7 linked regions of the Homo sapiens genome follow. The protein of the gene in region 7 interacts with the protein of the main gene of each other region in a pairwise test. Each region holds a gene or a part of one and is shown on either strand. Other genes may lie near its edges.

Evidence for each region.
Region 1: the proteins of POLL (region 7) and MAL2 interact in binary tests that used the Homo sapiens proteins (3 or more experiments, as listed by UniProt).
Region 2: the proteins of POLL (region 7) and TRIM23 interact in binary tests that used the Homo sapiens proteins (3 or more experiments, as listed by UniProt).
Region 3: the proteins of POLL (region 7) and TNFRSF10D interact in binary tests that used the Homo sapiens proteins (3 or more experiments, as listed by UniProt).
Region 4: the proteins of POLL (region 7) and FSD2 interact in binary tests that used the Homo sapiens proteins (3 or more experiments, as listed by UniProt).
Region 5: the proteins of POLL (region 7) and FAM9B interact in binary tests that used the Homo sapiens proteins (3 or more experiments, as listed by UniProt).
Region 6: the proteins of POLL (region 7) and SSX2IP interact in binary tests that used the Homo sapiens proteins (3 or more experiments, as listed by UniProt).

The regions. Positions count from the first base shown.
Region 1 is NC_000008.11:119,211,363-119,214,862, forward strand, and holds part of MAL2 (protein MAL2), read left to right. Parts: intron 1-3,260; exon of another isoform or gene 3,261-3,500. UniProt on the Homo sapiens protein: Member of the machinery of polarized transport. Required for the indirect transcytotic route at the step of the egress of the transcytosing cargo from perinuclear endosomes in order for it to travel to the apical surface via a raft-dependent pathway.
Region 2 is NC_000005.10:65,614,334-65,617,833, forward strand, and holds part of TRIM23 (E3 ubiquitin-protein ligase TRIM23), read right to left. Parts: intron 1-3,500.
Region 3 is NC_000008.11:23,147,028-23,150,527, forward strand, and holds part of TNFRSF10D (tumor necrosis factor receptor superfamily member 10D precursor), read right to left. Parts: intron 1,525-3,500; coding exon 1,411-1,524; intron 46-1,410; coding exon 1-45. UniProt on the Homo sapiens protein: Receptor for the cytotoxic ligand TRAIL. Contains a truncated death domain and hence is not capable of inducing apoptosis but protects against TRAIL-mediated apoptosis. Reports are contradictory with regards to its ability to induce the NF-kappa-B pathway.
Region 4 is NC_000015.10:82,803,270-82,807,555, reverse strand, and holds the start of FSD2 (fibronectin type III and SPRY domain-containing protein 2), read left to right. Parts: upstream 1-1,486; 5' UTR 1,487-1,590; intron 1,591-4,286.
Region 5 is NC_000023.11:9,024,128-9,027,627, forward strand, and holds the end of FAM9B (protein FAM9B), read right to left. Parts: intron 1,457-3,500; coding exon 1,388-1,456; 3' UTR 1,357-1,387; intron 1,251-1,356; 3' UTR 105-1,250; downstream 1-104. UniProt on the Homo sapiens protein: May play a role in meiosis.
Region 6 is NC_000001.11:84,680,462-84,683,961, forward strand, and holds part of SSX2IP (afadin- and alpha-actinin-binding protein), read right to left. Parts: intron 2,007-3,500; exon of another isoform or gene 1,737-2,006; intron 1,524-1,736; exon of another isoform or gene 1,367-1,523; intron 1-1,366. UniProt on the Homo sapiens protein: Belongs to an adhesion system, which plays a role in the organization of homotypic, interneuronal and heterotypic cell-cell adherens junctions (AJs).
Region 7 is NC_000010.11:101,581,820-101,585,257, forward strand, and holds part of POLL (DNA polymerase lambda), read right to left. Parts: intron 3,101-3,438; coding exon 2,783-3,100; coding exon of another isoform or gene 2,617-2,782; exon of another isoform or gene 2,531-2,616; intron 1,863-2,530; coding exon 1,689-1,862; intron 1,073-1,688; coding exon 944-1,072; intron 1-943.

The sequences.
Region 1 (3,500 bases), on a different chromosome or scaffold from region 7:
TTGTCTTTAAGAGTTCTTCATTTCTGTCCCATTGCCTTCTGAAACTTAACATGTGAAAATTGTACCTGACAAAGGAGGACTGGGCTATCAACAGTTGACTACGCTATTGACACCATGCTCTTGGAGTTTGGTTCTCACACTAACCATTTAACTTGGCTCAAAGTATTCATTCCCAATTCCCCTTAACGTATTCTATTCACAGCCTGTCAGATATAAGCCATTTGTTGGGAGATATTACAAAATATATAAATAGTGCCAGCCTACGAGCACCAGGAAAAGCATTATAGCACTGGCTTCTTAAGTGGAGAATATTACAATCTCACGTGCATAGTGATTTTTTTTTTTTTTTTTTTGAGATAGGGAGATAAGGTGTGTTCCACTCCTGGATACCTAATTGTCAGCTCTTTGGTTTTGGGCTTAGCAATACTTACCAATGTATGCTTGCCACAGAGTTTAATACTAAGTTAATATTGCAAAGCTAAGCCTTTTAGCTTAGAATGGAAGCCATCACCTTCAAAATTCGCACTTTCAAAATCTCACAGTTTTTTGAGTGAATATTTTATAAAAATCACTCATCGGGTATTTACTGAATACCTACTATGTGCAAGGCACTCCTCTGGGAACAAAGATGTTTAAACCCTTCCTCACCAGAAAGACCTATAACCTAGTTGAGAGTATAGTCACAAAAGTAACTACCATTCAGGGAAGAAAGAATTAAGTATGGGAAGTGAACTGCAGCTAAAACATTTTCCAGGTGGGTCTATCTACTTTAAAAAATAACATGGGATCATCTGCACTATTGGGCTGAACAAGATATTTAGGATCCCTGCTCTCAATGAGCTTATCTTGTAAAATGCACAAGAAAAATTGAATTTTTAATAGTATTAATCACGAAAAAGAATACAGATAATCATTGAATTCATTGTGTTTTATTTTGCAGTTTTAGTGTTTAAGAAACTACTTATATTCCCCAAGTTATTCATTCACATTTATCTTTGTGGGAGATACTCTAGGATTCTTATTCACATGCTTCTAACTGCAGTGTTTTGGATGCCATAGTAATTTTCATTTACTCAGCTTATAATTAAGAACATACTATGCATCAAGCCTTCTTTTATGCCCTGAAAATAGAGTAACTAACATGGCTCCTGCCCTTAAAAGAAATTACTGTTTGGTGGAATATAAAGTCAAGAAAGAATTACCATGCTGTGTATGAAGTGCTAATATAGGTTTATAAAAAGTATTGTGGAACAGCAGGATAGAGTACATCTGACTTCTGGAGAGGTCAGAACAGGCAGCTTTAATGAGGTGGGGACATTTGAGGTTAGCCTTCAATAATGAGCCATGGTTCATTAGAAAATGGGAAAGAGAATTCCAGGTAGAAACAAGGACACGTACAAACACAGAGACAAGAAGGACAATGGCAAGAACGTTCTGTCAGTTGTGAGATTTTGGTGGGCCGTGGCAGAAAAAGGAAAAACAGCAGGTAGGACTCAGGTTCTGGTTTGCTGAGAAATGCTAGGCCAAGGCATTGGATTTATTGTCTGATGGAAAGCTGTGAAGGACAGAGAGAAACTTGATCCAGCTTGTGTCTTAGAAACCTTTGAGTGATGAAGTTTGGTTGTAAAACAAAGGGACTGAAGGCAGGAAGAGCAGTTAGGGGGCTTATTGCAATAGTTTAGATAAGGGATGAAAAGAACCTGAAATAGAACCAATGAAAGAAGGATGGAGAAGGAGAGAGAGAGGTTTGAGGTTTGGGAAGTCAATTAAGTATGTAAAGTTTGACTTGCCCCAAAGTGATACCTAGACTAAACTTAAATATAAGATGTAACTCAGAGGAATTATGCCAGAAAAACAAATGTTAATGAAAGGATGATTGTGAGGGAGGGACTTTAGGGGAGGCAGGTTCAGTCATGCAGATAAATCTATGAAAGGGACTTCAGGTTATTTTCAACTGAGAGCTTTGACTTTGGACTAGTAACATGTATATGTTCTGATGTATAGAGTTTATTGCCTGGAAAATGTTGACTGTGAAGGGACATTGCTTATTTGCAGTGTGCAAGAGGGAGCTGTCCATGGACATAGTTGTCCCCTAAATGGGTTTTAAAACTGTAGGTATTTTTTTTCCTTTGCCTCTGGATTAAAAATCTTCATCCACATTAAAAGAATCTTTAGGCCGGGTGCAGTGGCTCATGCCTGTAATCCTAGCACTTTGGGAGGCTGAAGCAGGTGGATCACCTGAGGTCAGGAGTTCAAGACCAGCCTGACCAACATGGTGAAACCCCCATCTCTACTAAAAATACAAAATTAGCCAGGTGTGGTGGCACATGACTGTAATCCCAGCTACTTGGGAGGCCGTGGCAGGAGAATTGCTTGAACCTGGGAGGCAGAGTTGCAGTGAGCCAAGATCGCACCATCACCCTCCAGCCTGGGAAATAAGAGCGAAACTACATCCCCAAAATAATAAATGAATAAATAAATAACCTTTAAAGTTTCATAAGGGAAAATAAACCAATGCCCCTGCCAGAGATTATTATCAACAATCATTTGCTCCGACTGGCAGTCCTTTAAAAAAAAATACGAAGAACTGAAATATGGAAAACTTTAAACCAAGTAGCTGAAAAGATTCACCTTGAGCTCCAAAGGAAAAAGTCATAGAGAAGAGATTTGTTTTGTAGAGCCTGATAGAAATGTTGTACGTGGTGGTAGGAGCTGTGGACATGGTGTATTTGCAGTGATATGGCTGAATAGAAATGACCCTGTAATGACAAAGGACAGGAACCAGGTTGGCATACCCAGTATCATGCACATGCAGTACTTAACAAATGCTACTTGTTTGTTCTATAGTACAAACTGAGCAGTATGTGAAAATAGTCTGGAGACATTGGCTGGAGTGGAGAAGGGCAGCTTGGGAGTAGATGCCCTCTTAAATCTTGCCCAACATGTAAACTGCCATAATTCTTCTCCAGGTTTCTGCACTTTAACTTGAATTTCCTAAGTGTTCTATTTTATATAAGAGTACCATATCCTTTTATAGACAACATATATAACAATCTCAACTTCTGTATAATAGCTATGAGAAGGAGGAAGGTAAAAAGAAAGGAAAGAGGCAGTGATTTATACGGGTCTGGCCAATATCAGGGCATTGGCACGCAGGAACAGCTTTAAACTAAAAGTGATAACTAGTTACCTGCAAACATGAAAAGGGAATTTTCAAAATCGAGAGGAATTATTATAAAGAAGAATAAAAAGAACCAGAACATATTTCTCCTCTGTAATATGAGCTTTCCATTTTAGGGTCGGTGTCAGCTATTTAAGCAGCTGAATTGGAGGTTTAGGTCACATGGGGAGGAAGAAAGTATAACTCTCTATAGCACTCTCAGACATATTTTTAAAGCCTTCAAATGTAAAGCTAAAAAGTAGAACTTCTTTTGCAATGAGTATTAACGTATTTTGGTCATAAGCCTCTTATGTGTATGTCATTTCTCATTACATCCCAG
Region 2 (3,500 bases), on a different chromosome or scaffold from region 7:
AAATTCAAATTTTCCCCATTTTTAATACCAAAATAATTGCTTTGTTAATGCTCTCTTAAAAAACAGAAGAATCCTTCAGCCTTCCAAGTAGAAACACACTTTAAAATTTATTATTTTTTGGCCAGGTGCTTTGGCCCACGCCTGTAATCCCAGCAGTTTGGGAGGCTGAGGCGGACAGATCACTTAAGGCCAGGAGTTCAAGACCAGCCCAGTCAACATGGTGAAATCCCGTCTCTACTAAAAATACAAAAATTAGCCAGGTGTGGCGTCAGGCGCCCATAATCCCAGCCACTCAGGAGGCTGAGGGACGAGAATTGCTTGAACCCGGGAGGTGGAGGTTGCAGTGAGCCAAGATCACACCACTGCACTCCAATCTGGATGACAGAGCAAGACTCTATCTCAAAAAAAAAAAAAAAAAATCTAAATACACATAAAAAAAATTATGGTGGTAAAGGCTGCACAACAATATGAATGTACTTAATGTCCCTAAACTTAGAAATGGTTAAAACGGCAAATTTTATGTTATACATATATTTTGCCACAGTTTAAAAAAATTATTTAAATCTCTTTTACTTTTTTTTTGAGACAGAGTCTTGCTATGTTGCCCAGGCTGGTGTGCAGTAGCGTGATCTCTGCTCATTGCAATCTCCACCTTCCGGGTTCAAGTGATCCTCGTGCCCCAGCCTCCCAAGTGGCTGGGACTACAGGTGTGTGCCACTATGCCCAGCTGATTTTTTTGTATATTTTGGTAGAGATGGGGTTTCGCCATGCTGGTCAGGCCGGTCTCAAAACTCCTGGCCTAAAGTGATCTGACTGCCTCAGCCTCCCAAAGTGCTGGGATTACAGGTGTGAGCCACCGTGCCCAGCCTATTTCTCTATCATTTAATTTTACAAGTCCTATTTTGTCATTGACTTTTACTATACATGCTAAAACAAGCATTTTCAAATACTTTTTGCAGCAACCTACCTTAAGAAATACATATAACATTGTAACCCAGGACAACATACACACTCTTCCTGAACCTATGAATAAAAGTCAGATCCTTTAGCAGAAGGAATATTTGTTATGGTAAACTCCTATGCAACAAATAACATCTGATATAGCTGCCACCTAATACATATTCATTAAATGAATAAATATATAAAAGGTTGATGGAGTCATTGCCTGCAGGGCCCCCCTTCCTCCTGGCTCTTAAAAAAAAAAAAGCCATTCTGTGTTGTGGTTCTCCCAAAAAAACTGGACTGAACATATCTATCCTCAGCCTTGCCCCTAGAAGGCTTTCTCCTTAATTTTTAACACATATTCTACAACAAGCTGAGTTCTATCTATTTACATAAAGGTTAAGAAGTACACTAAGTGATCATTTAAAAATATAGTCTTGACAATTTTCTAAATATCCAGTCACTATATAATGAATATATACAAATAAACCTCTAGCATTATTACTAGGTAGTGCCTAATATTTATATCACTTAATTCTGTGTCAAAACAACTCTATAATCTCAATGGCTTAACACAACAAAGATTTATTTTTTGCATCATGCAACATCTCAGGGATTAGGGAAGACAAGAGAGACTCTGTTCCCCACTGACCACAAACAGGGACACAGCCTACCGAGCCTCCAACCATCTGGACCACCTCACTGCAGCAAGGAGAAGAATTTACTTTGAAAATCATAAACCTTCTCTTATTAACTTCTACCTGGATGCTAACACTTCACTTCTGCTTACATTTCACTGATCAATGAACATCACACAGTGATGCGTAAGAGGGCAAGGAAGTGTAATTTCACCATATGAGCAGAAGAAAATCAGGAATATTGCTGAATGGTATTAATAACTACTCATATTCTTCTTGGACTAGAGAGAAATTCTGATTCAGGATTCAGAGAAGTCAGAGAGGAGGATGGATGTATTCAGTCTAGTTCCCTGTCATAAATTTCTAGTTTTGTTAAACATTGAGGATAGTAACTCTTCACATTGTGGTATTAATGTAGAGAAGGTAAAGTGCTCTTCAAAAAGGTAGAAGAGCCAGGTGTGGTGGCTCATGCCTGTAATCCCAGCACTTTGGGAGGCTGAGGTGGATCACTTGAGGTCAGGAGTTCGAGACCAGCCAGGCCAACATGGTGAAACCCCATCTCTACTAAAAATACACAAATTAGTCAGGCGTGGTGGCAGGTGCCTGTAATCCCAGCTACTCAGGAGGCTGAGGCAGGAGAATCGCTTGAACCCCAGAGGTGAAGGCTGCAGTGAGCTGAGATCGCGCCACAGCACTCCAGCCTGGGTGACGGAGTAACACTCTGCTTTAAAAAAAAAAAAAAAAAAAAAAGTAGAAGAAAGGTTCTATTCTCTATTTGAAAAACATTACTATTTCTTTAAGCATAGTTTTTTTGTTTGTTTGTCTGAGACCAAGTTTTGCTCTTGTTGCCCAGGCTGGAGGGCAATGGCGTGATCTAGGCTCACTGCAACCTCCATCTCCCAGGCTCAAGCGATTCTCCTGCCTCAGCCTCCCAAGTAGCTGGGATTACAGGCATCCACCACCATGCCTAGCTAATTTTTACATTTTTAGAAGAAAAGGGGTCTCACCATTTTGGCCAGGCTGGCCTTGAACTCCTGACTTCAGGTGATCCACCCATCTTAGCCTTGCAAAGTTCTGGATTACAGGTATGAGCCACCTCACCTGGCCTAAGTATAGTTTTATATAAAGAAATAGTATGATATATGCATATTTCACATAATAAAAGACCAAATAAAAGTACAGAGACTTTCCCAATCCCTATTATTTCTTGGCTACTGGTAAGTTAATGCTATCTATAATGTTATTACTGTCTATTAGTTGTCAGGCAAATAGACTATTTATATACATCAAAGATCACCAAAACCTTAAAAATCCTTTTCTTTCTCCAGAAAATATTTTAAAACCATGTTTCTTAGCATTTCAAAGTCTTCCAGCCTAAAATTATAGGTACTCTTGCTTCCTTTTTTGGTGGATAAATTATTTTGAATGTGTTCCACTTGAAAAATAGTATGAATATATTAAAACTGTCTTAGATAGTGCAACTGACCTGGAAAAAAAATGGCAACCTTAAACTCTTTTGGAGAAAACTCCCTTATCAAAAAGAGTAAACTTACAGAACTTACGTTTGTAAAATAACTGTTCAAATGTTAGTAAATGCTATTATTTCCAAATCTGGTATCTGAAAATAACTTAGTTTGAAATACGTAAAGAAAAGTTTTAAAAGTATACAGAAAACTGCAAAAAAAAGCCACAAACCCTTCAAACTCATTTTAACAGAAAATAAAGAGTAATTATCACAAGCTACAAACACTTCTGTCCTTGATATTAGTAAATAAAAACATGGTGAGACTCAAATGACTTATCTGTATTTTCATTATTGGCTTATTTATTTGTAAAGAAAACATTGTTCTATTGGGTTTATGGCTTCAGGCAAATGATTCACTCTGTGATACACATTCTTATTTATTTGAATCAGGGTAG
Region 3 (3,500 bases), on a different chromosome or scaffold from region 7:
ACACGGTGTCTCTGGTCGTGGTACAGGAACTTTTATTTGTTTGACCTGACAACAGAGCATAAGGTTTTGAGAATGTGTTTCCCTGACATGTCTGTCCACCCTTCCTCACCACCCCATCCCCTCCCACTCAGCTCAACTCAGTTCACCAAGGAGTTCTGAGGGCTGGTTTCTGCACCAGCACACTCGGGACTCATACAGGACACCCACCCTGTATGTAAGGACCAATACAAAAGGACCGTGATTCATTATTTATTATATCAGGTTAGGGGAAAAGCATTGTTTAGATGGCATGGTCAGTAGCAAGGGAGGCGCAAGGGCATCACCTGAGAGACTCTGCAAGGAGAGGGGCCCTTGGGGGACTTCCCAAAAGCCCCGGCCTTGCTGGGGAAGAGGAAGGGGCCTGAGAACCTGAAGGCTAAGTGAGGCCAAGCACCTTTCAGGAGCACAGAGCCCGGGAGGAGAGAGCCTGGCCACGGAGCAGACCTGTGCCACTGCTGGAACCCAGCCCTGTCCACTGGGCCAGGCCTCCTCTATGCTGTAATGATGCCCCCACCCGGCTGCAGGCAATAGTTTAGAAGATTTCCCAGCCTGGTGGCATGCATTACAGAAAAGATTTTGGCCAGGCGCAGTGGCTCACACCTGTAATCACAGCACTCTGGGAGGCTGAGGCAAGCGGATCACCTGAGGTCGGGAGTTCGAGACCAGCCTGGCCAACATGGAGAAACCCTGTCTCTACTAAAAACACAAAAAACTGGCTGGGCACGGTGGCTCATGCCTGTAAGCCCAGTACTTTGGGAGGCCGAGGTGGGTGGATCACGAGGTCAGGAGATCGAGACCATCCTGGCTAACACGGTGAAACCCCGTCTCTACTAAAAATACAAAAAAAAATTAGCCGGGTGTGGTGGCGGGCACCTGTAGTCATAGCTACTCAGGAGGCTGAGGCAGGAGAATGGCGTGAACTCAGGAGGCGGAGCTTGCAGTGAGCCGAGATCGCGCCACTGCACTCCAGCCTGGACAACAGAACGAGACTCCGTCTCCCAAAAAAAAAAAAAAAAAAAAAAAATTAGCTGGGTGTGGTGGTGCATGCCTGTGATCCCAGCTACTTAGGAGGCTGAGGTAGAAGAATCACTAAACCTGGGAGGCAGAGGTTGCAGTGAGCCAAGATCATGCCATTGCCCTCAAGCCTCAGCAACAAGAGTGAAACTGTCTTCAAAAAAATAAATAAATAAAAGAAAAGAAAAAAAAGATTTCTATTTTTTTTTTTTAATCAACTAGTCATAATCATGGAACAGGGCATGATGAAGACTACCAAGTTGGGCTAGAACTTGGTTCCCCGACTCACATCGGCTACAGCTCCCACCTCATCACTATGCACTCCACCTCTGGGCAAGGGGTCCACACATTCTGTACCTGATTTACAAACTGTACATAGCAGGCAAGAAGGCAAATTGTTGGAAGCAATGGTGTAATCCACACCCTCTGTGCACGGGTTACAGGCTCCAGTATATTCTGATCTATGAGATCCTGGGAAGGGAGAGAAAAGTTAATGAATGAGTCACCACAGAATTCCCAGAGGCTGACAATGGCTGGCAAATTTCTCTTTTGGCCCTCAGTGGAATCCAGACAGAGAAATCTGCTCTTCTTGGCTTGGTCTTGTCATCAATTCTGCATCTATTACACTATTACATACCTTTGACTGGCACTGCTGACAGAAATATAATACAAATCACATGCAAAATTCAAATTCTATGAAAGCCACATTAAAATAGTACAAAGAATGAGGTCAAATTAATTTTAACTATTTTTTAGCCTAAAAATATCCAAAACACTACATTTCAATATGTAATCAATATAAATATTTGAAATATTTTATCTTTTTTTGGCCAGGCACGGTGGCTCACGCCTGTAATCCCAGTACTTAGGGAGGCCAAGGCGGACGAATCACGAGGTCAGGAGATCGAGACCATCCTGGCTAACACAGTGAAACCCCATCTCTACTAAAAATACAAAAAATTAGCCGGGCGTGGTGGCAGGCACCTGTAATCCTAGCTACTCGGGAGGCTGAGGCAGGAGAATGGCGTGAACCCGGGAGGCAGAGCTTGCAGTGAGCTGAGACTGTGCCACTGAACTCCAGCCTGGGCGACAGAGCAAGACTCTGTCTCAAAAAAAAAAAAAAAAAAGAAAAGAAAAGAAAAGAAATATTTTATCTTTTTTAAAATTTTTTTTGGAGACAGAGTTTCACTCTTGTCACCCAGGCTGGAGGGCAATGGCGCGACCTTGGCTCACTGCAACCTCCACCTCCCAGGTTCAAGCGATTCTCCTGCCTCAGCCTCCTGAGTAGCTGGGATTACAGGCACCCACCACCACGCCCAGCTAATTTTTTGTATTCTTAGTTGACACGGTGTATCATCATATTGGCCAGGCTGGTCTCCAACTCCTGACCTCAGGTGATCCACCCTCCTCGGCTTCCCAAAGTGCTGGGATTACAGGCGTGAGCCACCATGCCACGCCCAGTCTACTTTTTTTTTTTTTTAACAATAAAATAAAATAACAAAATAAAATCCAACCTCATCTACATGTGATCTGCCCATGCTGGTCCACCTGACCTGTTTGCTGTCCACTCACTATGGTGGCCCCGTCTCTGCTCGGTATCCCCCAGCGCCTGCACCCTGGGACTGTCATTCCTAGGGAGGCTGCTCAGGAGCACCATTTCTGGCTCTCTGCACAACTATCCCTGTCCAGCTTTGGAGACTGGCCAAAATCACCATCCCCGAGAGGCCCCACCAACCTCGTCTCTGTCTCACTCATCACTTAATTTCTTCATGGTTCCTATCAGGAATTTCTGACTGTTATTTTGATCTGTGTGTCTTAATACTATCCCAGAGAAAAGGTTCCACGAGGGCAGGGCCTCTTATAATTATCCCATTAGCACGGTGCCTGACTGACAGAAATCATCCAACATGTCCCTATGGAATAAAGAACCAGAAAGTGCAGGAAACAGAAGTCTGGAAACACATAGAGATAAGGGCATGATAAAGGCATGATAAGCTAAGATATCAGTCTTAGCTTGTGCCTTCGGGCTAGCACTACAGACCCAGGATCCTGACCCACCTCCATAGATTCAGCTTCCAGATCTGTCCTAGTGCCAGGTCAGTCCCCATGAACTCAGGCTCCAGGCCCTTCCCTGTGGACCCAAGGATGAGACCCATCACAGCACCTGGCTGACATCTGCAGACCCAAGTACAAGGCCTATTCCAGTGCCAGTTCAGCCCTCATGGAGCCAGGCCTCAGGTCACCTCTCTGGATACTGGCTCTGACCACCCTTGAACCACACCACATGGCCTGCCCAGAATCTGTGAACAGGCTGACTGGTGAAGGGCGTTCCCTGACAAAGCCAGTCTGTAAATACTGGATTAAGTCCCTGCTTCTTCAAAGTGCACATTCCAACATATTGCCACAGGCTCCTGAGCAATCAGGGAACAGTGACGGCACCAAAGAAA
Region 4 (4,286 bases), on a different chromosome or scaffold from region 7:
ACTAATTTTATTCATGAGGGCTTGCCTTCATGACCTAATCACCTCCCAAAGGCCACATTTCCAAATACCATCACATTGGGGATTTGGTTTCAACATGGGAATTTTAGGGGAATATAAACTGTCTATAGCATATGTATATATATGTATGATGGTTAATTTTAATGTGTCAACTTGATTGGGTCACCAGGTGTTTAGTCAGACATTATTCTGGGTGTGTGTGTGTGATGGTGTTTCTGGATGAGATTAACCTTTGAGTTAGTAGACTGAGTAAAACTGGTTGCCCTCCCTCATGTGAGTGGGCCTCATCCAATCGATTGAAGGTCTGAATAGAACAAAAGCTTGAATAAGAGGGAATTCTTCCTGCCTAACTGCCTTCAAGTGGGAATATGGGTTTTTTTCCTGCCTTCCAACTCAAATGGAAACATTGGCTCTCCAGGGTCTTGAGCCTGCTGGCCTTTGGACTAGAACCACACCATTGGCTCTCCTGGATCTTCCGCTTACTAACTGCAGATCTTGGGACTTTTTGGTCTTCATAATTACATGAGTCAATTCCTTATGATAAATCTGTTTCCATATATGTATACATTCTATTGGTTCTGTTTCTCTGGACAACTCTGACTATTACACTGTGTGTGTGTGTGTGTGTGTGTGCGTGCGTGCATGTGAGAGAGAGAGAGGAGAGAGAGATTATACTGTTATGCTGGTCTGTGGGCTCAGCATCAAAGTAGGAATTTTGCAACACACCCACAGTTAACACTCACTTTTTTCCTCAACACCTAGACTCTTTCAACTTCTTAACAGAGTCAGAATTTTGGAAGAAAAGAACATTAACACTAAATTGTCATTTTATAAATTATTAAACTAAAGCTTAGAGAAATAGTCAATCATAGTCCATAAGGAATGTATTGGCTGGATAGTCCCATTTCTATGCCATACCATGGCAAGTAAAAAAAAAAAATAATAATGTTTGCTTAAGGCTTATATGGGAAGTGTGTCCTGTGCTTTGATTAGAAAAGTGCCCCCAAAATGTTTTTTAACCTTGTATGGTTCATGAGCACCTCTGAGAATCTATTGAAACCTGTGAGTTCTCTTCCCGGAAGTGATTCTATAAGGACACAGACATAATTTTGCATATAATTTTAGAAACTCATTCACTTAAAAAAAAAAAAAAGGAATCTTCTTCCTGGTCTTGCCGTGACAGTCCCCAGCCCTCTCCACATGACCAGCCATCTGAGACCCATGGTAGAGCCACAAGTCTAAAACCCCTCACAGCACAGAAAGTAACTCAGAGCACGGCATGTGACCTCTCCTGGTGACACTTGAGTAGTAAGAAGTGGCAACTCAGCCACAGCAGGTCTATATTTGGACCTTCACTCATGGCAGGCCTGTTGCTATTTGTGGCTGCAGCCAGCTCATGTTACCATCCAGCTTTGGTGCCCCACTTGCAGAACTCTGGTGTAAAATAGGCAGGGGTAGCCTGTGGGGCATGCAGAGGTCACTAGGAAGGAAAGCCTGCTGAACACAGATTCAATTTTCTAGCAGAACTCCAGGTCCTCTGAGTTAAAGGAAGCATTTATGGACGCTTAGCAGGCAAGTTTTGGGGTAGTCATATTCTTCCAATGCAAATTGTATTATTAGAAACTCAATGCTGCAATATTAATGCAATATCTTTCCTGTAGGTGGGAAGAGATATCATGGTAAATTGCAGATGTTTAAATTACAATAAATAGTGTAAATGTTTTCTGTGCCTTCTTAAAGCAAGAATTCGCATTAACTGAACATGATGTTGGGACAGGATGTGAGAGGCTCTGATGAAGGCAGACAGGGGCTGGTGATTCTTATAATGTGTCTTTAGGATATCTGTAGTGCTGGGACCCATTAGTTAGAACCATTTGGTAGAACAGTTTGGAAATATAGATGTTGAATATCATCTGGCTATACTATTGTGTTGTAAATACATTTTATTTAATCTGTGTGTACATGCTGAAAAATAATAACTTCATGCATTGATTCAAATACTAAAAAACAGCATCGTAATTATTTTTCACTTGTTATGCATACAGCCTCCTCCTATAGAAAGTTTTCAGGTTCGGGCAGTGTCTGCAAAGCTGATTTGAATCATTTCATATCACTGTAACACTTTAAGGCAAGCTTTCTTTCACTGCTGTGGCTCAGGAATTGCCAAGGGCTGCATGGAAGAGCTAAAATTATAGGCAAAGTTATGTTCCTGCCCTTATGGAATCACTTCTGGGAAGAGAATTCACAGGTTTCAGTAGATTCAGTAGATATGCCCATGATCCATAAAAGGTTAATAAACAAGCCAAGTGAGGTGGCAGATTGCATGAGCCCAGGAGTTCAAGACCAGTCTGGGCAACATAGCAAGAACCTGTCTCTAAAAAAAAAAAAAAAAAAAAATTATTGGGGGACTTTTCTAAGTAATGCACAGGGATACACCTCCCATATAAGCCTTAGACAAACATCTTTTTTATTTTTTTTAACTGCTTCCCTTGGCATAGAGGAAAGGGTATCCAGCAAAGACATTCATAATGGACTATGACTAATTGCTTTACTTCTCTAAGCTTTAGTTTCACCATTTATAAAATGACAGTTTATTGTCAACTTTCCTTTCTCCCCAAATCCTGATTTTGTTAAGAAAGAGTCTAGGTGTTGAGGGGAAAAGTGACTGTTAACTGTAGGGTGTGTTGCAAAATTCCTACTTTGACACTGAGCCAGTTTGTGTTGAGACCACTTTGTGTTGTGTGTTCGAAGGGCAAGTGCCAGCTTGAAAGCATGTGTTCTTATCTGTATTTGCACTAAGTGTTTTCCAGTCTTCTGACAGTTCAACTTGGTGTTTCACATTCCAGCTTCTGGTTGAAATAATTTCTCATGATGATTTATTGGTCATACAGAATCCTGGCTATTTCCCTTTGGGTAGCACATGGGAATGTAAGCATTATTTTAGTGAACTGCTCCTCTGTCTGTAGATGGTGTGATTTAATGGAAACCTGGGTTTGAATCCAAGCTCTTCACCTGACTGGTTGTGTGTCAGGTGAAAAGCTTGGATTCAAGCACAGGGCTAAATACAGAGTAGCCCAGATACATTTTTGTAAAAGAAAATTGGCTATAAGCAAGTCCTTTATCCTCACAAGATCTCAGTTTTGCCATCCTAAAATCAGGAATTTTTTTTAAACATCCATGACCTGCTGAATAAAATCAGGAAATTGAATTAGATGCTCTCCAAGGGACCTCCATCCCTAGAATACCATATCTCTGCCTGGGCCCCCTGGGAGAGGAATGATCTCATAGCTGATGTCTGTGCGTGGTTATGAGGCTGTTCTGCTTGGTGCCTTCTTTCATCATCGGCTGTTTTCAAGGGACAAATATTCCCACAGTAGCCATGGATGATTCCACACTGCTGTGGTCACTCTCCATGAGTGACTAGGTAGAAGGCTTCTAGCCCAGGTGGGAGATACTAAGGTAGGAATCATGATAATGATAGTAAGAACAACAACAATAACAGCAGCTAACACTTACTGAGGACTTACTTTAAGCTATGTACTATGCATAAAGTACATTATGTTATTTCATCTAAATGCCAACCTTATGAGGTAGACACTGTTAATAGAGCTGTTTTATAGTCCATTAAAGTTAGGCCTAGAGAGATGATTTTCCTGAAGTCATACTTCCAGGATGTGGCAGAAACAATGCAAACACAGGACTCTCTGAATCCAGAGGGCAGTGATCTTGGGGAGCAGGGAGAGGGGACAGGAAAAGGGATATTACTTAGAGATTCAAGAGGTAGAGTCAGAATCAGCATGAATTAGTTATTAATTAGATTGGGGGTGTCAAGGATGAGCTTCTGGTCTCTGGTTTGGTGCTGGAGGGGGTGGATGTCATGCTCTCATTCATGGATAGTAGCAATGCAGTGGACTTCATGGAGGGCCATGTTGGATGAGTATGGGGTTTAAGAAGCAGTGGTGAGATAGGGAAGAGTGGGAGCTCTCAGCAGGCAGGACAGTCTGAGCCAGGGCCTAGGGTGAGTCTCACATGGAAGACCCTGAGCGCGGCCAGAAGGAACAGAGGGTTACCGCTAGGGAAGGTGGGGCTGCTTGGGGAGTATAGAGCTATGGCATGGGGTGGGGGATCCCTGGTGCCCAGGAGAGTTGGGACTTGCCAGTAATGGAGCCCTCAGAATGCACGATGTGCAGATGTACCACTTCTGCCTGAACAAAGCAACATATGCTGTATAAGCTATGCTGCTATCCTGGGCAGGGACACCCCTGAGG
Region 5 (3,500 bases), on a different chromosome or scaffold from region 7:
GTACATCTTTTTAACATGTTACATGCAAAAAATCTTTTTACATGTTTGTTATATGTTGTTACATGTGAAAACTGCACATTAAAAAAAGGAAAGGCAGGCGAATTCATCATTCAAGTTTTTAGATGTCCATATAAACTTCCACATAATCCACGAATATTAAACTGGATAAACAAAGCACTCTACAAAATTTACCTTGCCACAGATGTGAAATAATTGTAAGCATACATAAATGTTAACAAAATGCTTTCATTCAATTCTAAGGGGAGGTATCATTGAATGATGGACCAAAACAAACTAAATAGCATTTTGATGTCTGTGGAAATGACATACCCACAAACCAGTGGCTCAGCACTGATATTAATATATCTTGCTCAGTTGCCTTAATCATTTACAGCAGTATAATTTTTTTTAAGAACACAGACAGTAAGGTGCTTTTAATAATTTTGATATGGCCATAGAGTATATCTATTTTTTGAAGTCCTACTTTCATTGGAATTGCCTCTTTATCCTAATGAGTAAATACAAAAGAACGCACAGATAAGATAGCTTTTGTCTTCTTCTTCTTGTTTTCTGAGAAAGAGTCTTGCTCTGTCGCCCAGGCTGGAGTGCAGTGGCACAATCTTGGCTTACTGCAACCTCCAACTCCCGGGTTCAAGAGATCCTCCTGCCTCAGCTTCCTGAGTAGCTGGAACTACACGTGCGTGCCACCACGCCCGGGTAATTTTGGTATTTTTAGCAGAGATGGGGTTTCACCATGTTGGCCAGGCTGGTCTCAAACTCCTGACCTCAAGTGATCCACTCCCCTCGGCCTCCCAAAGTGCTGGGATTACAGGCGTGAGCCACCACACCCAGCAGATATTGTCTTCTTTTATTAGAGAAAAATGTACTTTTCTATGCCTGTGCTTTCTACATTTTTGGAACTGATACAAATCCACAGAGGCCAAATCGAAATCTAAATTATCTTTAATGTTAAAATTTAATTGACCGTGTACATAACTATGCAATCCCTGCTTTCTCACAGAAGTGTCTAGGATTCATTCAACAGATCATAGAAACGAGGTCTGGCATTTAACAGACGAGTGACAGAGGAGCTATACCGATTTATACAACAATTATCAAAACACTGTCATGTAGTTTACTGTAGCTCAAGTTGTGCTTGTATCATATAACATAGGTTCAAGTTCTTTCTTCAGTCATCAGAATAACAGAGGTTGAAGAGACAACTGGGTAAGTGCCAACTTTTCCAAAAGCTGTTTCAAAAAAAAATTTAAGTAACTGTAATACACATTTCTGCAAATAAAATATTCCAGTGCTACATCAATCCTGAGTTTTTAATATTAAATATGCACTACTTACAGTTCTGACATGATTTTATTTAAAAACATGTCTAGTTATCAAGTTCACTGTCTTCATCGGAAAAAACTCTGTCACAAAGGTCTTCAAAGTCCTCAAGAGCCTAAAAGAAAAAGTCTAGTTCACTGACAAACCACCACTTTATATCTCGCATTTTAAACAGGGTTAATTAAATGTCAAAAGGAAACAGCTTTTAATATTCAAAGGATGCCAGTTATTCATTTCAAATAGAAAAAACTATAATCAATACATGGAGCTCCAAATACCCAATTAAATTTTTTAATGCCAGATTTCAGTGACATATTATTTTAGCAGGTCTAACAGTCATGTACTTTGCTTAAATAAAATGGGTTGAAGAACATCTTAAGGTCAAGATGGAGCGAAGACAGAAAAAGACGGGCAGGCTTATATCATGAAATATTATATTTTTTTTCAGCAGGTAGCGACCCATGTATTATCAGCAATAGCCTACATAACATGGTTTCCATTGAAGGGATAAAATGGTTGGTGATATGACCTCATCAAGTTAGAGAAAACGTAACTGTGTTTGAAATATATACTCTTTACTCAACAAATAGTTCAACAGTTCCTACTCCCTAAAATGTTGTAGGTTAATGCTGAGGAAGATGTAAAAAATGAATACACAATCTTCCGTATTTCTATGACATGAGCAAATGCACAAATAAAAAACAAGTAATACAAAACTTGTGTAACTGCTATGGAAGGGCAACTCACTCGGGCATGTAGCCAAAAATGGAGACTGATGTTGATTTAGTTGGCGAAAGGTTTCAATCAGTCAAAAAAAGATTTTAAAAGTATTGTGAGGGAAGAGCATGAGCAAAGCATGGGAGTAACGGTGAGTTCCTTCAGGGAAGGCGGTCAACCTGGAGAAGTGGGAGGAAAGACAGAAGGCGGCAAAACAAGCCTAAGAGGGGGTCATGTAAAGGGGAGAGTCTCTGAATATCTAAGAACTGAGACGGGGCATCACTGACAGGCTGGGAAGACGGAAGGGCTGGGAAGCATTTTAGGAAGGGAAGGGTTTTAGAAAGATAATATTGCCAATCAATGAAGGATGGCTCAGAAGAGAAGAGAGAACTCAGAAAAGAGTTTAATAGTACAGGTAAGGAAGAATGAGGTCTTGGACTAGGGTAGCCGCAGTGGGAATTTAAAGAAAGAAATTAAAGGACCATTGCAGAGGTAAAACTTGCCTCGTGATAACTACATGGGAAGGATAATGAACTCAGAAGAGTCCAAGATGATAGCAAAGTTCCTAACCTAAGTGGTAACATGAAACATTAATACTGACAGGAAAACTACTAGTCTCATGTTCATACCAATTAATAAATGGTATCTGGAGAACATTATAGCAACATGTTCTCTACTTGTAACTTCTATTTAAATAACTGTTTGTGTATAGATAATCCTCAAGTTGCTTGAAAATTTTATTTTCAAACTCTTTTCCCAGTTTATTTAACACATCTCAGTTAGTGTAGAGAAGTGACATATGAACATGTCTTTTCCAAGGTTATTAAAAAGAATACCAGATCTCCCCAAAAAAGATTCCACTGCTTCCTAAATTATCTACATCTACATGAAGAAGAGGTCATTGTCTGATGATAATTTGCTAATGTGCTGTACAACAGCAGATAATTCGCAATTCACAACGTGTTAATAATCTGCTGGCTTTCCCATTCTGTTATACATCTGAACCATCTCTTATGATTACAAATTGTCATGTAGAACCATTACTAATAATTTTGTAAGTGAATATGCCATAAAACACTCCTGTGTTTCAGCAAGAAATAAAAAAGACACACAGTAGTTACGCTTGCCTACTTCCTATTTAACTAAAACTCTTGAAACAACACAAGTAAAAAAGCCATCCAGAAAGGATTTATGGACCTCTTGCCTTCCACCATAGATTTGTCATTGATGTCCTGAAAACTGAAAATAAAATCTTCATTAAAACCCATTTATGCCTAGTGTTCCATTATTGGAACGCTAAGCTTGTGGGAATCATATATATCCTACTGCTCAAGGTCATGGCCAAGGTCTGATTTTTCACACACAAAAAAAATTTGCAACCTCTGGCATAAATAGGTTAATGTGTTAATAAAGTGTCAATTTTATACATAAGATGTGTATTT
Region 6 (3,500 bases), on a different chromosome or scaffold from region 7:
TTTAATAATTTTATTAAATAAACTTATGCATGTAGAGGGCTTAAAAAAAGGTCATGGGTACATGGTAAGTGCTCAATAAATGCTAGCTATTATTAGCTATTTTACTCTTGGAAAGACTTCCATGATATTTTGTTAAGTAATGTAAAAAAGTTACAAAACCATATCTAATATGAGCTTATTTAGTCCTCAGGAAAAAAAAACAAATATCAGTAGATATGTACAGGCATAAATTCTGCTCTATAAACACAAAAGTTGGTATAAGGACAGAAAAAATTGCAAGGAAAAACCAACTTAAAAAATAGGGAAAAGGCAAGGGCAGGACTTTCATTCCTTTCTTTATGTACTTTCATGCACAAAAATATAACTTTTATTTTATTGTGTCTTCCAAATTTTCTATAAATGAAAGTGTTTTTCATATTAAGAAAAAAAATTTATGTTTTTAAAAGGCAATTATGGTGATGATAAGCACAGGAAATGGGGATAAACAGCACCATTCTGAACCACCAAAACCAATGGTAGAATGGCATGAGTGATAAAAAATGCATAAAATAAAACAGCAAGCAGTCTTGTTGGGCAAAAACTGGTTAGAAAATTATACAAATGTCCTACAGTTTTTTAAGATAGTCAATTATGTAAGGGAAATAGCACTTTACCAGAGATCAGTAGTTTGTTGTTTTAAAGGGCAATTCCAACAGTATACAAATATTTGAAATGTGTAAATCTTTCCACTAAACAATCATACTTCTAGGCATATAAGAGAGCAAGCATAATATATATTGAGGACATTGTTGAATTGCAGTATTATTTGAAATGGCAAAAAACTAGAGACAATCTTAATATCCATCATGGACAAACTGTTAAAAACCAACACATATGGTACAGCCAGGCTATTCTGGGATTATTAAAGATTAAAGCACATATGCATGTATAGCACAAAAAAAGAAGTTACAGGTTAATTAGAACAGTATGATCACCATTTTTTGTTAACTCAAACTACCTATATATATTTAGGGGAAAGTTCTGGAAAAGTTACAAAATGTCACAAATGACACTTCTTGGGATGGAATAATTTGGGTACAGGGAGGGGTAGAAGAGCAGGGCTTTCACCTCTTCCATAGCATATCTTTATATAGCTTGAATGTTATAGGAGCATGTATTATTCTGTAAAATTTTTAGCAGCAGAGTATTCAAGCACAATTAAATGAGATAATGTGTGAAAGTACTCTTAGCTCAATCCCAAAAAGTAGCAGCCCTGTCCTTGAGTGGAAATCTCGACTTAGACAAATCCCACCAATCAGGTACACTTCTAGCACCTGTTCCACATATGTACGCATACCCATGAGCAAGGGTAATGCAGTCTTCATACCTGAGGGAATGTCTGTGGGAATCTGGCCCATCAGGAAGACAGGGAACAGAAATACAGAGGCCAGACTTTTCCCCAACTATCATCAAGGGCAAAGCCATGGAGTACTGGCAGACCTGGCAAAAGTGGACTCTCCCCCTGGCTTAATGAACAATCCAACCTTGGTAGGAGGAAAGAGGGAAATTGACTTTATTAACACCCTCTTCAAAAACAAATGCTCTTCATCTTTCAACCTTCAATGAATGAAATTACTAAGAAGGTGCATTTCCGCTTCAAGAGAGCAGCTCACAAAGTTAAATACGGTAGGGACTTAATCTATGTACACCATCTGATATTCCATTATATACTGACTTTTTATTGCTAATGTTTTCACCTGTTTTGGACTTGGCTGCCAATTAAACTGTTAGTTTTCCAGGGCGCTGTCACTTCAGGGAAGCTGCACAGGGTACTGAGAGAGCGCTGGACTGAGTAGCATCAGAGGCCATGGTTCTCAGCAACACTTCTGTTATGTACTGAGAAACCTTGAACCGGTCATAATTTCTTTGGGTTTCAATTATGAAGTCAAACTAGATGACCTTTAAAGAATTTCAAGTTCTATTATCTTTTGATTTTTACATTTCTCATAGGACCCAATATGGAACTGAGTACAGCTATTTATATCAAAATTATTTTGTCTTCACTTTTTTTTTTTTTTTTGAGACGGAGTCTTGCTCTGTTGCCCAGGCTGGAGTGCAGTGGGGTGTGATCTCAGCTCACTGCAACCTCTGCTTCCTGGGTTCAAGCAATTCTCCTGCCTTGACCTCCCGAGTAGCTGGGACTACAGGCGCATGCCACCGCACCTGCTAATTTTTGTATTTTTAGTAGAGATGGGGTTTCACCATGTTGGCCAGACTGGTCTCGAATTCCTGACCTCGTGATCCTCCCACCTTGGCCTCCAAAATGCTGGGATTACAGGTGTGAGCCATCACGCACTGCCTTTTCTTCACATTTTTATAACAATGTGCACACATTGTCTTTACAACCCAATGTTTAGCAAATGAGATTCTACCTAATTTTAATAACAATAAAATAATTTATTAAGCATGTAGCAATTACTTGGAACAATTCTAAGCATTTTATGTGTACGAACTTATTCAATCTTACAATGATCCAAATACTTTCCCCCATTACAGATAAGGAAACTGAAGCCTGGAGTTTTCTTGACCTAGGATACAGAGCTGGAACATGACAAAGCCAAAATTCAAACCCTGGTAGTCTAGCACATTTAACATTACACCCTACTATCTTTAGTACAGGAGAGGGGGAAGGATACAATATTCAAGCTGCTTTTTTTTTTTTTAAGTTTTGGGATACATGTGCAGAACGTGCAGGTTTGCTGCACCTATCAATCCGTCATCTAGGTTTTAAGCCCCGCATGCATTAGTTATTTGTCCTAATGCTCTTCCTCCCCTCAAGCTGCTTTTTCAAACCGAACAAGTATTCTCTTCTTTACCACCTCACCTGAAACTAAATTATAATCAAATAATTATGCCAATTGAATAACTGGAATGGGAACTACACAAAAGCAGACAAAATATTAAATTCTGGATGTAGCAATTCAAAAAAATTTTGAAAAACCTAGCAAATATATTGCCAGGCTTTCCCTGCACTGCCATCCCTTCTCTCTGTGCTTCTAGAACACTTAACATGAACTGTATTACAGCACAGATCTAACAGGAATAAAATTTCTCTCCCACCACAACTGAGTTCTCATTTGGCAGGCTTGTCAGCATATTCTTTGTACCCCACTTCGGTAACAGGCATCATCACTCACTCCAAGGTTGGAGCCCAGTCAAGATTGCTGAATGAATGTCCAAGTTCAAGGATGTATTAGTGTAAGGTTTGCTGCTGTTTTAGTATGATAGACAAGTCAACACTTTGGCCATGCTGCAATTTGGAAGGGCTTTCAACGTAATCTTGATTGGTAACAGCTCAGAGAAGGAGAAAGGTGATTCAGGGTATGAATCAAGAGCATGGCAATTTACAAACAGTGTATCAGTTTCAAATTCTTCCAATGTACACACAGGAATAGCAGCAATCATATTCTTAGAAGATTATTAAGAAACAAGAAAAAAAAGAGGCACTTTTAGAAGTCTAT
Region 7 (3,438 bases):
TTTTCAGACAGAGTCTTGCTCTGTTGCCCAGGCTAGAGTGCAGTGGCACAATCTTGGCTCGCTGCAACCTCCGCCTCCCAGGTTCAAGCAAATCTCCCACCTCAGCCTCCCAAGAAACTGGGATTATAGGCATGAGCCACGGCACCCGCCTAACTTTTTTGTATTTTTAGTAGAGACGGGGTTTCGCCATGTTTGCCAGGCTGGAAATTTTTGTATGTTTTATAGAGACAGGGTTTCACCACGTTGGCCAGGCTGGTCTCGAGCTCCTGAGCTCAGATGATCTGTCCACCCTGTTCTCCCAATGTGCTGGGATTAAAGGCATAAGCCACTGTGCCTGGTCTTAACTCCATCTTGATGGAGCTTTCTTCCAGCCCCAAACCAAATCCTACTGACACTGTGCTTTTACACCAACTCTACCCCAAATCCTGAGCCAGCCTTGCGTGGGCTTTAGAAGGTCCATACATCTGGAAAAAGACATAAACCTTTGCACATTTGTGCATTTTGGGGAGAAAACAGTCCACAGTTTTCATCAGGTTCTCAAAGAAGTTGGTGAAATAAAAAAAAAAGATAAAATAAAATATTAAAACCCTCTGCCCTGACCCACCCTAACCTCAGTACAGATATAATTCACCTGTAATCTAACCCTAACATTAACCCAATCCTAACACCAATCAGTCTAGAATTGAATCCAATCCTAATAGGCCTGACTACTGAGAACCAGAATCTAGAGGGCTGGTGTTACAGCTCTTTCCTCCCAAAGCTCCCCACCCCCACCTCTGGGCCTGGAGCTTCAGTCTTAACTTGCTCTGTGCTCAACCTCTGGTGATCCACAGTTTCCTCTGCCTGCTGTCCTCCCCAGCTGAGGAGTTGGGGGTTCTTGGCTTTGACCCAAGACCTTACAGCAGGACCTGGCTGTCCTCACTGCTCTGGGACACCTGCTTACTGTCTGCTCAATCTCTGTAGCCTCCTCCCTGGGCATACGTTCCAGGAAGTCACTGTAATGCTTCAGGCCGATGGCCTGCTGGGTTGTCAGGGAGGCCTGGCTGCGGATGTCTTCCAGACTTCGGAAGCCCTGGAAAAAAGCAGCCAGATGGGAAGCTGTAAGGATCCAGGACCAATGAAGAGGCATGAGTGAGCACACACACAAGGCTTCCATCGCCCCAGACTCTAGGGAAGGCTAGAGGCAGGACCAACCTAGGGGCAGTTGGGTCTGTACTCAGCAGGACTTGGGAAAGGCAGGGAGCATGGGAAACATGCCATCATCCAGCCCTGCCACTATCCTAAGATGCTCGTTCATGATTCCATCAGTCTGAGGATGGACCTTGTCATCTTCATCCTTACCAAGCTGCCCTGGTGATTGTGGGCAGAGCCAGGATTGGGAACCACTGCTCTAGACACGCAGTGTCAAGGCCTGGCCTCCTCAGGAAGGCCCTTGCTGGTCTGGGGAGACTGAGAAACATACTTCTTGTCCCTGTCTACTCCTTCTTAAGGATACCAAGCAACAAGGCTGTTCTGGGAGCTGAGGGGTCTATATGAGTCCTGGTCCGCTTGAAAAATGGTCTCCCTATACTGTGGGTGCATTCCCATCAGAGCACAGCATAGGGATCTGGGGCAGAGCACAGCACACATCTGGGGCAGGAACTCTGAGACACAGCAAAACTGAAGTAGGGGCTGAGCCAGGGTGTGACCTGTTGGTACCACATCTGGGCAGTCTTGGTCCCAGCTCCCCAGATGTTGGAGAAGAGCTCCAAGACAGGCACGCTCTCACTGATATGGTCCAGCTTCCGCAAATGCCCGCTCTCCAGGATCTCTATGATTTTCTCAGCCATCCGCTTCCCAATCCCAGGGATACTGCAGGCCTCCTAGAGGAGGAGGAGGCAGAGGCAAGAAAGAAGAGTGAGGAGATGGAAGAGGTAGAGCCAGTGGAAAGGAAGCTGACTCCTCTAGCAGATGCTGACATAAAAGCCAGCCTGGCTGCTTGGCAACTGTGTGGCTGTGTAAAGCTTGGGTGTAGTTGAAGATGAGAATTTTGGATAGAATGAGGGCTGGGTAATTTGTCTTTTGGTTCCCAGAAGGATGGAGACCAGCAGTAAGAAGTAGAAAATAATGATGATATTAGTCACCACCACCACCACCACCATCATCATCATTCCAACAGCAAGAGCTAACATTTACTGAGGGCTTACTCTATGTCAGGTCCTGTGCTACAGGGACCATTTCATTTAATAGTAGCCCCTTTTTACTAATGAGAAAACTGATGCTTTGAGAGTTTAAGTAACTTGTCTGGAGTCACACAGTTAGTGAATGACAGGAACCAGAGTTCAAACCCTGGTCTGTTAGGCTTCAGAGTCCAAACTTCTTTTAAACAACTTTTTAGGCGGGACACAAGGGCTCATGGCTGTAATCCCAGCACTTTGCAGGGCTGAGCCGAGGGTAGATTGCTTGAGCCCAGGAGTTCAAGACCAGCCTGGGTAACACGGCAAAACACCATCTCTGCTAAATAAATGAATAAATAAATAAATAAACAAAATTAAAAATAAAAAACTTTTAATTATGTTAAAAAATTCAAAAGTAGAGAGATCCATATAACCCCCAAGTATCGTACATCTCCCAGCTTCAACAACTATCAAGATTTTGCCAATCTGCTTTCATCAATTTTCCTTTTTTTTCTTTTGTGCAAGTCCTAGACCCCATAAAATCTTCACCACTGTACCTGAACCCCACTGGGGTTACTAACCACTGGCCAGTAAAGACCCCTCCTCCCACTCTAGCCCCTGGGTACCTGGTACGAGGTGACAGGCTTATGGAAGCTCTTGAGGGCATTGATGGCCTTGGCATAGCCCAGGGCCCTCCACTTGTCTCCCTGAACACTGTAGGCTTTGGCCAGAACTTCCAGCTTCTCTGTGATATGGAGGTTGTGATTGGTCGCCTTCTGGCTTGAGGGCTGTGCACAGACCCACTTATCCAGGACAGCAGGGGCTGGGCTAGGCTCACAATCTCCCTCAAGGGAGGTGGGGTAGTGGCCACTGATGAGGGCTTCCAGATCAGCTGCACTAACCTGGGTTTCTTCCCCATCACTGGCTTCATCATCAGAGATGGGCTTGGGATAGAGAAGAAAAGAAAACAATAAATTCTTGTTCTCCAAGAGAAGGGATCCTTAAAGGTGGGGGTCATCTTCTTTGTGCGGGGGGAGGGTCTTCTAGTCAGACCTAAGAATGAGGCGGGGCCTTCTGCATCAGACTTGGATCTCCTTGGGTGTGAGGCCACGTTCCCTTTGGCTCCACGCAGTGCCTAGCCCTAGGATCCCCAGTGGTATGTGTTAGATATGGCCTAGATAAATGCAGCAGTGATGAGTGTTGGGAAGAGCTAAATGGCTTCACAATAGAGCCCTCCTCTCTCAGGGGCCTGGGACTTTCTGAACAGCCACCAGGCCCACCC